Regions from separate parts of the Homo sapiens genome. Here region 2 is linked to region 1. A link means that fine-mapping ties the variant in region 1 to the expression of a gene that starts in the linked region. Tissue or cell type: whole blood. Region 1 holds a variant in brackets; the other region holds the start of a gene. All regions are shown on one strand. Distances are from middle to middle.

Region 1 (5,829 bases):
AAACACTGATCACCCACAGACAGGTGCCCATCTCCTGTGTGAGTTCTTCTATCTTTTGCTCAGATACGGTGGAAGTGAGGACAGGGGAGGCTGGCTTCATAGGCCCCCAAGGTTGGCGTCAAGAACACACAAAACAAAGTACCGTGGTCTCCAGGCATAGAATACCAAACAGTGATACCATACTTCCTTGCCCAGGGGAACAGGGTAGTTGCTGACCTTTCTGGAAAAACCTGAGTCAGCAGAAGGCCAGTACTTCAAGAAACCCTATCTTAACCCAGAGATAGTTACTTAAGGTAAAGCTCTCCCCATCCACATCCACATAAAACAATTTCAATACCCCTCTCCTAAATGGGGTTTTACCAAAACAACTGGGCATTAAAATGCCTAACAGACACAACGGGCCCAGGCTCTGCAAAGCATTCTAAAAAAAGACCTGCGCCAAACAGGGTGGAGGCCACAGAAATCAACAAGACAGTACCTTGCTGCCATGGCTGCCGGTTCCTGGACCAGGGAGGGAAGGGAAGGACAGCAGACTTGGTGTTTCCCACTGTCAGTACCAACAGCGAATGGCTGTACCACCCCCTCCCCCCCGCCCCTTACCACCTTTTCATTTTCCTAGAGTATCTGCTGCCAATACCTCTTTATTATAATTTACATAAAGCAAAATATGTAGCTTGTAAGTATACCTGTAGTGTTTAAGTTCACATTTCTTCCTGAATACTCCAAGACTTGTATTTAGGCAACCCTCCTCCTTGTACCACAAGAGGGAAATAAACAGGTAACAGAAGGTATAAGCAGAAGCAATTTAAGGGGGGGCTGCCAAGAAGTCCCTTTAGTTTGTCCCCACTGAACCCTACCAAGAAGACAAGGGATCCTAAAGGGGAGTGGCTCTTCTTTTATCCAGCTGGTCACTCTCAACACAAAGGGAAAAAAAAAAAAGATTCTATAGCTGGGAGTTACCCCACCCCACTCACCCTGCCTACCCCTTTCCAGGATCAATGCTCTGAACCCTATGTTAAGTCAATTCCAAATATCTCAGTGCATTATCCAGCCTCATCTGAGGTTAAAATCCTTCCCTTGCCATGATTCAGAGACCACTCACTCTTCATATAACTCCCTGGTTTTTAAAACCACTGAGTAATTCTGGTCATCCAGTAATCAACCCCTTAACTCCCCTCCCCCACCTAAAAGTGTTTTGCTTCATCATCTCCAAGACAGGCCTGGGCACCAGGGGGTTAGCTGGATCTTTTCTGCACAAGGCCACCACGCCTTGGGGACCCTCCTCAGGGCCACTCCAGGTGCAGACTAACAACTCCAGGGAATTTATCAGGGTAAGTGGAAGAGCCATGCCTGCCTTTACGTGGAGCCATCTGTCCTGCCACACTCACAGCTTGCATTTCCATCTCTTGCAAAACAGCTCCATGTTGTATGTGTGTATGGTGGGGAGTGATGCAAAGGGGAACAGAACAACTGTTGCTGTGGATATCTTCGTTCACCACCCCCATGCATCCCCTTACCCCAGCCAACTCATTCTCTGGCACTCACCCGAGTGTGTGCTGCTCTGGGCTGAGGAATCTGAGTCCTGGGTGCTCCAGGGTCGGTCCCAGCCTGTCAGACTGAGGGACTGCAGGCCAAGGCACAAGTCATTTGCATCTGGGAGGCCACGGGAAGATTCTTGCGCAGAGGTTGGGAAAAGCATCCTGCTTGTAACTGTTTCTTCAGAGTCCTGGAAGTCTGTTTTGGAAAGGAGCACAGCAGAAACCTCAGAGTTAAGGGCTGTTTTCCCCAATATTATCAACAGTAAATATTATTAATAATAGTTTCCCCAGGCTCACAGGCCAGACATCCAAGCTGGCTGGATGCTGCAGCCGCTGCCTCTGCACTTTTGGGGACGCTGGGGCAAGAGCAGTTGCCATACAGGCCCCCTCCCCTCACACACACACCCCTATCCCGTCTGCATTACAGACTGGGCCAGCATGTGATCAGGCTGCTGATGCTTCCCGCTGCCAGTGACATCAGCCGGCTGAGCCGTGCAATAGAGAGCGGCATCATCCCTCACAGAACGGGGGAGGAGCAGGAGGGGACGACAGGGAGGAGACTTGCCTCCCAGGGAAAGACAGCACAACAGCTACTTGGAATAGTCCCGGTGCAGTGCCGTTAAGTCTGGGTTGCAAGGCAGCGCCCTCCGGTCTCCAGCAATGGTGGCCAAGCAGCCCTCACGCACGACTGAAGTCCTCTCC[G/A]CCGACAGCAGAGCCAAAGCAGCCGACTGCCTGCTCGTGTGGCTCTGCCCTCCTGCCCCTCCCTTTCCCTCCCCCTGCTCTCCACCCCCAAACCCAAAAACACTCTAGTCCTGGACTCTCTCCAGCTGCTGGCTCAAGCCCTGGCTTTGCAGCCCAATGCAAAGCTTCACAGTCCTGCTAGCAAAAATCTGTGCTCCAAGTGGCCCCTGAGCAGCACCCTGACACAGCAGTGTTTACCACTGAGGAACAAGATAACCTTCAGAAAAATACTGTACACTTGGACCCTGGGGAACAACACCTGGTGTTCCAGGCTTGTCTAGAGCAGCTTATCACAGAGAAAGGGGGTAAGCGTTGGCAGAGTGGGGGAGAGTCACTGGGCTGTTCCAGGTACACCTCAAAGGACATGGCCCACAACCCACATGCCAGAGTGAGACCTGCCCTGACTAGGATAATCCCTGTGCCCAGGTTCCCTCATCCCAACAAGATGGGTATTAGTCATGAACAGATACAGCGGCTCAGCTCCTCCCCTCCCTCCTGCAACTGTAGGCACAGACTGAGGAAACACTCTCGAAGCAGCATCTGACAAACCAAGAGAAACAGTCTCTGAAGTATCGTTACGCCCTATTAGAAACACCAAACTCTGAAACCTAATCACCTAGCTCTGTCAATATTGCTTCTCTTGCCCTTCCAGGAGCCCTGAGCATGATACAGGGCAGCCGTGAGGGCCACTGATGCCTCTAACATCCAGGCCCTCTCTCAGAGGTGCTGCACAAGACCAATGCTTATTTCTGTGGCCACTCACAGCTCCAGCAACAAAGACTAAGAAAATTCAGCTTCTGGAGCTTCCGCCATTTCCTCTTTGCCATCTCCTCCCACATCGGTCCTTTTCCAACATGAGCCCAGGGTCACTGGGCTTCTTCCTCATAAAGGAGGGTAGGGCAACAGGCCCAGACTCACCAGGCAGGCTGCTCAAACCTGGACTCAGCTGGTAGCACTCCACCTGCTTGTTCTCCCCTGTTGCAAGGAGAAGCAAGCAGATACGGGAAGCATGCCCACCTGGGACCTCCCATGGCAGGGTCGAGAGAATAATGCTGCCACAGAAATAGCTGTTCAGAACTTCCTGCAGTACACCCTGTGTCCACAGGCACTCAGGCATAGCCTAGAAGGGAAAATTATCAGTCTCCTTCCTTTGGAGATTTTTTTTTTTTTTTAAAGCTTTGCTGCTGTGTCATCCATCCACGTTATTCCTCCTGGCTGTAGATATTCTGCTTGCTCCCTATCTGTGTTTGTCAAAGCCTTGTTCATCATGGCAAAGGCCTAGCAAAAATCACCCATACTGGTGCTGCCCCTACCCCTGACTACTCCCCTCCTGCTTCTCTATGTTCACCCTTCCCTCAAGCTAAGGATATACTTTAGACTTCACCCATACATATTAGTTACCAAAACACAATGCTTCCTTCAAAAACATCCATATTTAAGTATCTATTCTCCCCTACACCAAATATCTATATAATCCCCATACCCCAATCTGAGGGCATCTATGTCTAGAAGCAGCCATTTTCTACCCATTAAAATCAGGGTGACTGTGCATATGATTACCCCCATCCCTCACGAGGAGAGAATCAACTATGCTCTTGCTACTCAAAATACAGTGTGGCAGACCAGCAATATGAGCATCACCAGGAGCTTGTTATAAATACTGAGTCTCAGGCCCCACCCAAGACCGACAGAATTGAGATCTGCATTTTAACAAGATCCCCAGTTAATATATATGTATGCAAAAAAAGTTTGAGCAGTCGGGTGTGGTGGCTCATGCCTATAATCCCAGAACTTTGGGAAGATTGCTTGAGCCCAGGAGTTCAAGGCAGCAGTGAAAGCCATGACTGCACCACTGTACTCCAGCCTGGGCGACAAAGTAGTTCCCATCTCAAAAGTTTGAACAGTACTGATGTGTACAACTAACACAATCTTCCCACCCCAAGCTGAAAGACCCCAGGCCTGAGCAACAGGTCTGTTAAACCCATTTAAGACCAAATGGCTACATGCATCCAGGAGCTTGGAGTTCTACACACAGTATAATTCTACCCTCACCCCTACAACCCCCACCACAGACCTCACCTTCCTCCTTATCCAGACATTCCTCAATCTGTTGTTTCTTCTAGATAAAGATTTTCACTACCATTGTAGGATTTCTTCACTAGCTCCAACTCAATGCAGGCCATACCTGTTAAAACCATTAGTGTGGCAGGCTGGAAAAATCAACAGCTTTAGATGACTGACAGACCTTGCTCTGCTCACCAGGTCTGCCACTGTGTCTTTCTGAGAATCTTTTCTTCTTTAAAGATGCAACAGTAGCCATCTTTTAGGTGTTTTGTGAGGATTAAAGAAAATATTTGAGGCCAGGTGCAGTGGCTCAAGTCTGTAATCCCAGCACTTTGGGAGGCTGAGGCAGGCAGATCGCTTGAGGTCAGGAGCTCAAGACCAGTCTGGCCAACGTGGTGAAAACCTGTCTCTACTAAAAATACAAAAAACATTAGCCAGGCACAGTGGCACACGCCTGCAGTCCCAGCTACTTAGGAGGCTGAGGCAGGAGAATTGCTTGAGCCCAGGAAGGGGAGAGGTTGCAGTGAGCCAAGATCGTGCCACTGCACTCCAGCCTGGGCAACAGAGCTAGACTCGGTCTCAAAAAAAAAAAAAAAAAAAAAAAAAAAAATCATAAACCATGTTCATGTACTGGAAGACTCAACAGCGCTAAAAAGTGATACCCACAAAATTAATATACAGATGTTCCTCAACTACAGTGGGGTTATGGTCTGATAAACCCATTGTAAGTTGAAAATATTATAAACGGAAAATGCATTTAAATACATCTAATTTACTGCACATTATAGCTTAGCCTAGCATACCTTAACTGTGCTCAGAAAACTGACACTAGCCTACAGTAGGGCAAAATAATTTAACACAAAACTTGTTTTATAATAAAGTGATGAACACCTCATGTAATTTATTGAATACTGTAATGAAAATAAAAACAGAAAGGTCGTATGGATACTCAAAGTACAATTTCAACTGAATGCGTATCATTTTCACACCATCATCATGTCAAAAACCAAAGTTGAACCAACCTAAGTCTGGGGCCATCTGCACATCTGTGTAATCCCAATATACCAGACTTAAAGCAATTCATTGGGGAAAAACTTTTTAACAAATGGCACTGGAACACCATATGGGGAGGAGGGAATAAACTCTGACCTATATACAAACATTAATTTAGTAGATATCAGAGACGTAAAAGTGAAAGCTAAGTATAAACTACAAAGCCTCTCTAAGAACCTATCTTTGTAACTTGGTAGGGGAGGGGGAGTACATAGAAGCAAGGGTTTCTTTATGTAGAGTACAGAAAGCAATGATCATGGAGAAAGTTGATAAGCTGACCTTATCACAACGAAAAACTTCTGCTCATCAAGATACCACTAAGAAAATAATTACGCAAGCCACAATATGTGAGAAAATACCCACAACCATATCTGACAAATCAGTAAAAGAAATCTTAACTGAAAAGTAACGAAATCTCAATTGTTAAAAGGCA
Region 2 (5,829 bases), 140 kb after region 1:
TCTTAACTCCCTCTTAAAGTAAATAAATAATCTTTGCTGGCAGGGCTATGCTGAACCTCCTTGGGCACTCTCTAATTGGATGTCCTGGGTCCTCCCAATTCTTAGTCCTTTAATACCTGTTTTTCTCCTTCTCTTATTCCATTTAGTTTTTCAATTCATACAAAACCGTATCCAGGCCATCACCAATAATCCTATACAACAAATGTTTCTTCTAACAACCCCACAATATCATCCCTTACCACAGAATCTGCCTTCAGCTTAATCTCTCCCACTCTAGGTTCCCACGCCACCCCAATCCCGCTCGAAGCAGCCCTTCAAGGCTATGGAGAAGCAGTATCTCTCCATACCACCCCCCGCCAAAATGTTTGCTGCCCCAACACTTCAACACTATTTTATGTTATTTTTCTTATTAATAAAAGAAGACAGGAATGTCAGGCCTCTGAGCCCAAGCTAAGCCATGATATCCCCTGTGACCTGCACGTATACATCCAGATGGCCTGAAGTAACTGAAGAGTGAAAATGGCCTGTGCCTGCCTTAACTGATGACATTATCTTGTGAAATTCCTTCTCCTGGCTCATCCTGGCTCAAAAGCTCCCCCACTGAGCACCTTGTGTCCCCCCACCGCCAGAGAACAACCCCCTTTGACTGTAATTTTCCACTACCTACCCAAATCCTGTAAAACGGTCCCACCCCATTTCCCTTCGCTGACTCTTTTTTCGGACTCAGCTGGCCTGCACCCAAGTGATTAAAAAGCTTTATTGTTCAAAGCCTGTTTGGTGGTCTCTTCACATGGACGTGCGTGAAAATCCTCATCTTCTCCCCCTGTCCCTCTAAACCCCCACCCAATATCCAATTAATCATCAGGTCTGAGGCTTCCACCTCTTCCACAGCCTCAAATCTTCTGCCTCTCCCCTGGTCTAGGCCACAATCATGCCAGGCCTGTGAACTTCAAGACCCACCTCCCTTGTCTCTTGTTCAATCTGGCCCACCTCCAATCTCTTCTCCACAATGCAGCAGCCTGACGTCCTTCTAAAATATAAATCTGATTATGTCGCCTGCTTAGAATCCTTCAGGAGTCCTCCCCACCCTCTTTTCTGGTCAGTCCAGTGGCTCACACAGATTGTGGCCTGGCTCTCAACCTTCCTGAAAGCCCTTTCCTCTGCCTGGAACATACCTCACGCTCCTGTCTTCCTTCTCTCCGGCGCCAGAGACTAGGTCCTCTCCCTGCTCCCACTGCCCCCATTACACTCGACTGTCCCTGACTGCTTCTTCATCTGTGCTCCCCTCTAGAGCATCGTGAGGACAAGAAGGGTCTCATGTTCACAGTTGTATTCCGTGACTAGTTCAGGACTCGACACAGTTGGCTTTTCATAAATGCTTGTTGCAGAATTTACGAATAAACAAATGAAGAAACAAACGAACGAATCAAAGGTGGGGGAGGGTGTGAAGGTGGAGCTGAACTACAGGGGCAATGCCAGGAGCAGGGATGTGAGGGTCAGATGGAGATGGGGACCAGAGGGAGGGGAAATGAATTTGCAGCAGGGCCAAGCTGGGAGGCTGTGCAAGTACATCCAGGGCCCGCCTTCCTGAAGAGGCCCCAGGCTCAAGCTCAAGTTCGCTGACTCAGACCCCTCCCCCACATTTTTGGGAAGCCAACCCGCCTAGCACGAAAAAGGAAGGGAACCCCTAACGCAACGCCGCAAACCGGAGAAACACCTGGAACCGGAGGGTTTCTCCTCTCGAAACTGAGCTGGCCCATCCCCCGCCAGCCCCTATCTGCCCCCCTCCGCGTCCTAGGCCGGCCCCTGGAGCCGGGGTGCCAGCGCTGCCCGCGCTGGGCCGGGGCTCCAGGCCGCAGGAGGGGGCCGGGCGGGCTTCCGGTCGGCGCGGCCGGGGCGGGGCCGGCGCTGGGGCCGGGCGCTGTCCATGGTGCCCGCGCGCCTCGCCCGGTCCCCGGCCCCAACCCTCCCGCGAGCTTCCTGGCGGGCTCCCTCACCGCTTGTAGTCGGAGGAGAAGATGCCGCCGCTCGCGGGGTCGTGGCCGTACTCGGGCTCCCCGGGGCCAGCGGAGCCGCCCTTGTCTTCGCTGTAGGCGGGGGCGGCCGACATGGGGCGGCCAGGGAGACTTCGCCGAGGAGGAGGTTGCGGGGCCGGAGGCCGGCTGGAGCGGAGGAAGGGAAGGCGGGCCGGTCCGGTCCGGGCTGGCGAAGGCGGCGGCGCGGCAGGGGTTCAGCAGAGGCTGCAGTGTGCAGCGGCGGAGGCTGCGCGCGGATTTCTCAATCAGGGCCGCGCGCTGAGGTCTTAAAGGCACCGGCGCCAGCCGAGCGGAGGGCGTGTCCGCGAGGAGGCGACAGGGGCGGTGCGTCAGGGCCTGGCCCCGCCCATCCCTAGGAAATGCCCTCTTCAGGGCGTCTTCTGCCCTTTAAAGCGACTTGGCTCGTCTCCAGATCTAAAGGTGGGCGAGTCTGCTGGACGGACGCTGGGACCGTCTTGCAGGGGATGTGGAATAGCTGCCCCCACCCCCGACCACCTGGCCTCGGCGGGACGGGCCTCTGGGGCTCCGCTCTCCCCAGACGCACGCGCGGATGCTCACCCACGCCGTGGAGGGAAAGCGGGAACTGGAAAGAAGGCTGTGCCCGCAGGCTGGGGGTTCTAGAGCGGGAAGGGGTCACCGCACCCGAGGACCGGCCTCAGATACCTAAGGACGCTCCCTTTCCCGCCCCACCTTTCCTACAAAATCTGGCTTGGCAGCAGGAAGCCGAGGAGCTTCCTGGAGGTGGCGGAATTTAAGGAATTAAGGTCAGGGAGCTCCGAGGAGCCCTTGGGGGCTTAGAGAGATGGGAAACAGGATACAGAGGACGGTGAACATCTAATTAAGCTTTGGAAAGTAGTTTAATGAATCTTTCTGAAGCCTCCACGTCCACCCAGGAGGGCCAAGGTCATGCTTAATCCGGGGACACGTCCACGTCCATTGACACCTGAAAAGGAAGAGAAGGGTCTGGTGTGACCACCAGGGCTCCTGAGTCATGTGAGCCCTCCAGTTCAGCTCCCGAGCCCGAGTGACCCCTAGGCCCAAGGAAGGAAGGCTTGGATCCGATGGAAAGTAGTGAATTGGGCTGGGGGAAGAGGTAGGATCCAGTTGGGCATCAGTTGAGGTGGCTGGAGTCTTTTAGCTGGGCATGGGGACTGGAGGAGTTCCTAAGGCCTGAGTCTTGGTCTGTAACTAGCATCCCGAAGTCTCCATGGGCAGAATTGGCGGGCCTACCTGGGAAGGAGTGGGGCCCAGAAAGGTGGAGCTTGGCTCAGTAGAAAAGTTCTATTGGGGGTAATTCTACTGGGGTAAGGTTCTATTGGGGTAATGAGAAGGTTCTGTTGGGATAACCTAGACAAGTGGGTGGGTCCGCTTGGTTCCGGTGGCTTTGTGCCTGCCAGAGAAAAGTGGATCTTGAATTTGGAGAAAACTGGCCTGGGTGGGGAGTGGGAAGAGAAGGGCCTGGATTTTGCAGTTGCGCGTTTATAAGGCGCTTTGGCTAGTCTGCTCAGGAGGTGGGATGGGTCCTGTGCAGGTAGCTGGGCCACGCTCACCGACCTGCTGGAGCTCCCGTCTATTTGCCGGGGGTCCAGGCTGGGACCTGGGACGAGCAGACACAGTGCAAAGTGCACACAGTTGCTGCGCATGGAGTGATAGGATGGTGGGTCCGCGTCCGTCGCTTCGCTCACTCTGCGCAGCACGCGCCAGCAGGAGCGCAGCAGCGGGCGCTGCCCCTGTTTGGATACGATGCCTTTCCAGGAGCCCAGAAACTTCCCAGGAGCCCACAGCCTCCTGAGTTCTTGCCTGCGGGGATCGCCAGAGGGGTGCGGATCAGAGCCAGGCTTAGGTCCTATGCCCTGTGATCCCGCACCCCCATTTCCTGAGACCTCAGGGACCCTGAGTGCCCAAACCCCATTTTCAGAGAAACGTACCCCCAGCCTGGGACTTCAGTCTTTATCCCCGAGTAGCCAGCTCACTGGTGGGGCGTGGCTTGGCTGGGCAGCCTCTCCGCAGACTTGGGCCTGTGTTTCTGCTGGAGGCACTCACCCTCAAAGTGGATGATCTCTCCATGGCCACAGTATATGCCAACGTGGGCCCCGCACCAGCGTCAGGTGGGGGGAATCAGCCTGAACAGGAAGACGTCTCCTGGCTCAGGCTCCCTGCCCTCCAACTACACAGCCTCGAAGTGTTGACCCAGGAAAGCCTCAGAGAGGAAGAACTTAATGGTGCTGACTGCCCCAGTCAGGGCCTGCATGGAGAAAGGGACCTGCCTTCCTGGCGTTTACACAGGCCTGGGATAGGGAGGAGGTGGGTCCTTCCAATGACCATAGGTCGGATGGTCTGCCCAGGGCTCAGGGAGACCTGTCTTGGGCTTGGGCCCAAGGCAGAATGTCTTCACTGCCACACACTTGCCTCCTTGTGCTTAAGGGACTCCAGAGGTCCAGATATCACAGATACATCCTGCCTCGAGCCCCTACTGAGAACCCTTCAGTTCCAGCAAATGGTGCCTCCTCCCCATCCAACTGTCTTCTCATCTCAAAGTCCAGCCATTCCATTCTCTCCTCCTCCCCCCTGCGCTAGGATCCCCTTCCCCAACCAGCTCCCATCTTGCCACTGCTCCTGAAGGCAACACCAGGGACTGGGTGGGTGTCAGCTGGTACCTGAGTTGAGCAGAAGACCTGAAAAAATCGGGAAACCTGGATGAGATTTGGACCTAGGACAAGCATCTCCTCCCAAGTCTGTGTGGAGAAGGACCTCTCCAGAAACCTCTGTTGAGCAGCTGCTCATTTGATCCTTAATACAATCACAAGATAGGAACAATGTCCCCATTTTCAGGATAAGGAAACAGGTTTACAGAGGCTATGTATCACTGGAGTGCACGCAGCTAATGTATTCCTGCATGTTTCTGTGCCCTGTGCCCTTTGTACTAAAATCAGTCACCTCTCTTAGCTCTTCTTCCTCCATAAGGAAGTGAGAAACCTGCTTAGTTCAGGCTTCTCCCATCTCTACTGGAAACAGAAGGCTTTTGGGACTTGGGAGGATGGCCCCATTGCCTGCACTGTGCCTGATGTTTGATCTAAGAGCCTGGGAAAGTGGGTGAAGGTAAGACCTGTGGGCATGGAGCTCTCCAGGGGTGTTAGAGGAGCTGGGAGCAGGAAGTAACACACTACCGCCAGGTGTCTGGGCATCTTTGTTGGAAGGAAGCAGAATTGGCTCCAGCAGATTTGACTGGGGTGGGAAAGACCCATATGCAAATGAAGAGCCAGGCTGCCCAGGCCCACCATGCAGAATGCCAGCTACTGTGTGGCTCACTGTGTCTCTCCCATCCCTGATCCTTCCTTTTTCTCCTGGCCCATTCCATAGTATCTTCTGCATTTTTTTTTTTAAGATGGAGCCTTGCTCTGTCTTCAGGCTGGAGTGCAGTGGCACGATCTCGGCTCACTGCAACCTCCGCTTCCCGGGTTCAAGTGATTTTCCTGCCTCAGCCTCCCGAGTAGCTGGGACTACAGGCACCCACCACCACGCCCGGCTAATTTTTATATCTTTAGTAGAGATGGGGTTTCACCATCTTGGCCAGGCTGGTCTCAAACTCCTGACCTTGTGATCTGCCTGTCTCGGCCTCCCAAAGTGCTGGGATTACAGGCATGAGCCACCTCACCCAGCCAAATCTTCTGCTTATTACTGGGTGAGTCTCATTTTCTCAGACTGGGAGCTATGGAAGACCCAGGTGACCAACTCATCCCAGTCTGCCTACAACTTCCCATGTCTTAAAATTGGAAATCTTGCATCTCAGGAA

The links. PIP is the estimated chance that this variant, and not a neighbour inherited with it, causes the effect.
Region 2: AP3B2 starts here. The variant in region 1 is fine-mapped to the expression of AP3B2 in whole blood (TOPMed, PIP above 0.99).

Annotation. Positions count from the first base shown.
Region 1 is chr15:82,569,799-82,575,627 of GRCh38, forward strand. CPEB1 (cytoplasmic polyadenylation element binding protein 1) reads right to left here. Exons shown (of 13, transcript NM_001365242.1): 4 at 1,546-1,734. Among named protein-coding and RNA genes, the nearest start is that of RPS17, 32 kb to the left of the region's middle. The variant G/A (reference allele first, on the strand shown) is at 2,241.
Region 2 is chr15:82,707,597-82,713,425 of GRCh38, forward strand. AP3B2 (adaptor related protein complex 3 subunit beta 2) reads right to left here and starts at 2,279. Exons shown (of 27, transcript NM_001278512.2): 1 at 1,998-2,279. The coding sequence starts at 2,110. It also overlaps the pseudogene LOC338963. RefSeq lists silencers at 1,803-2,062, 2,283-2,332.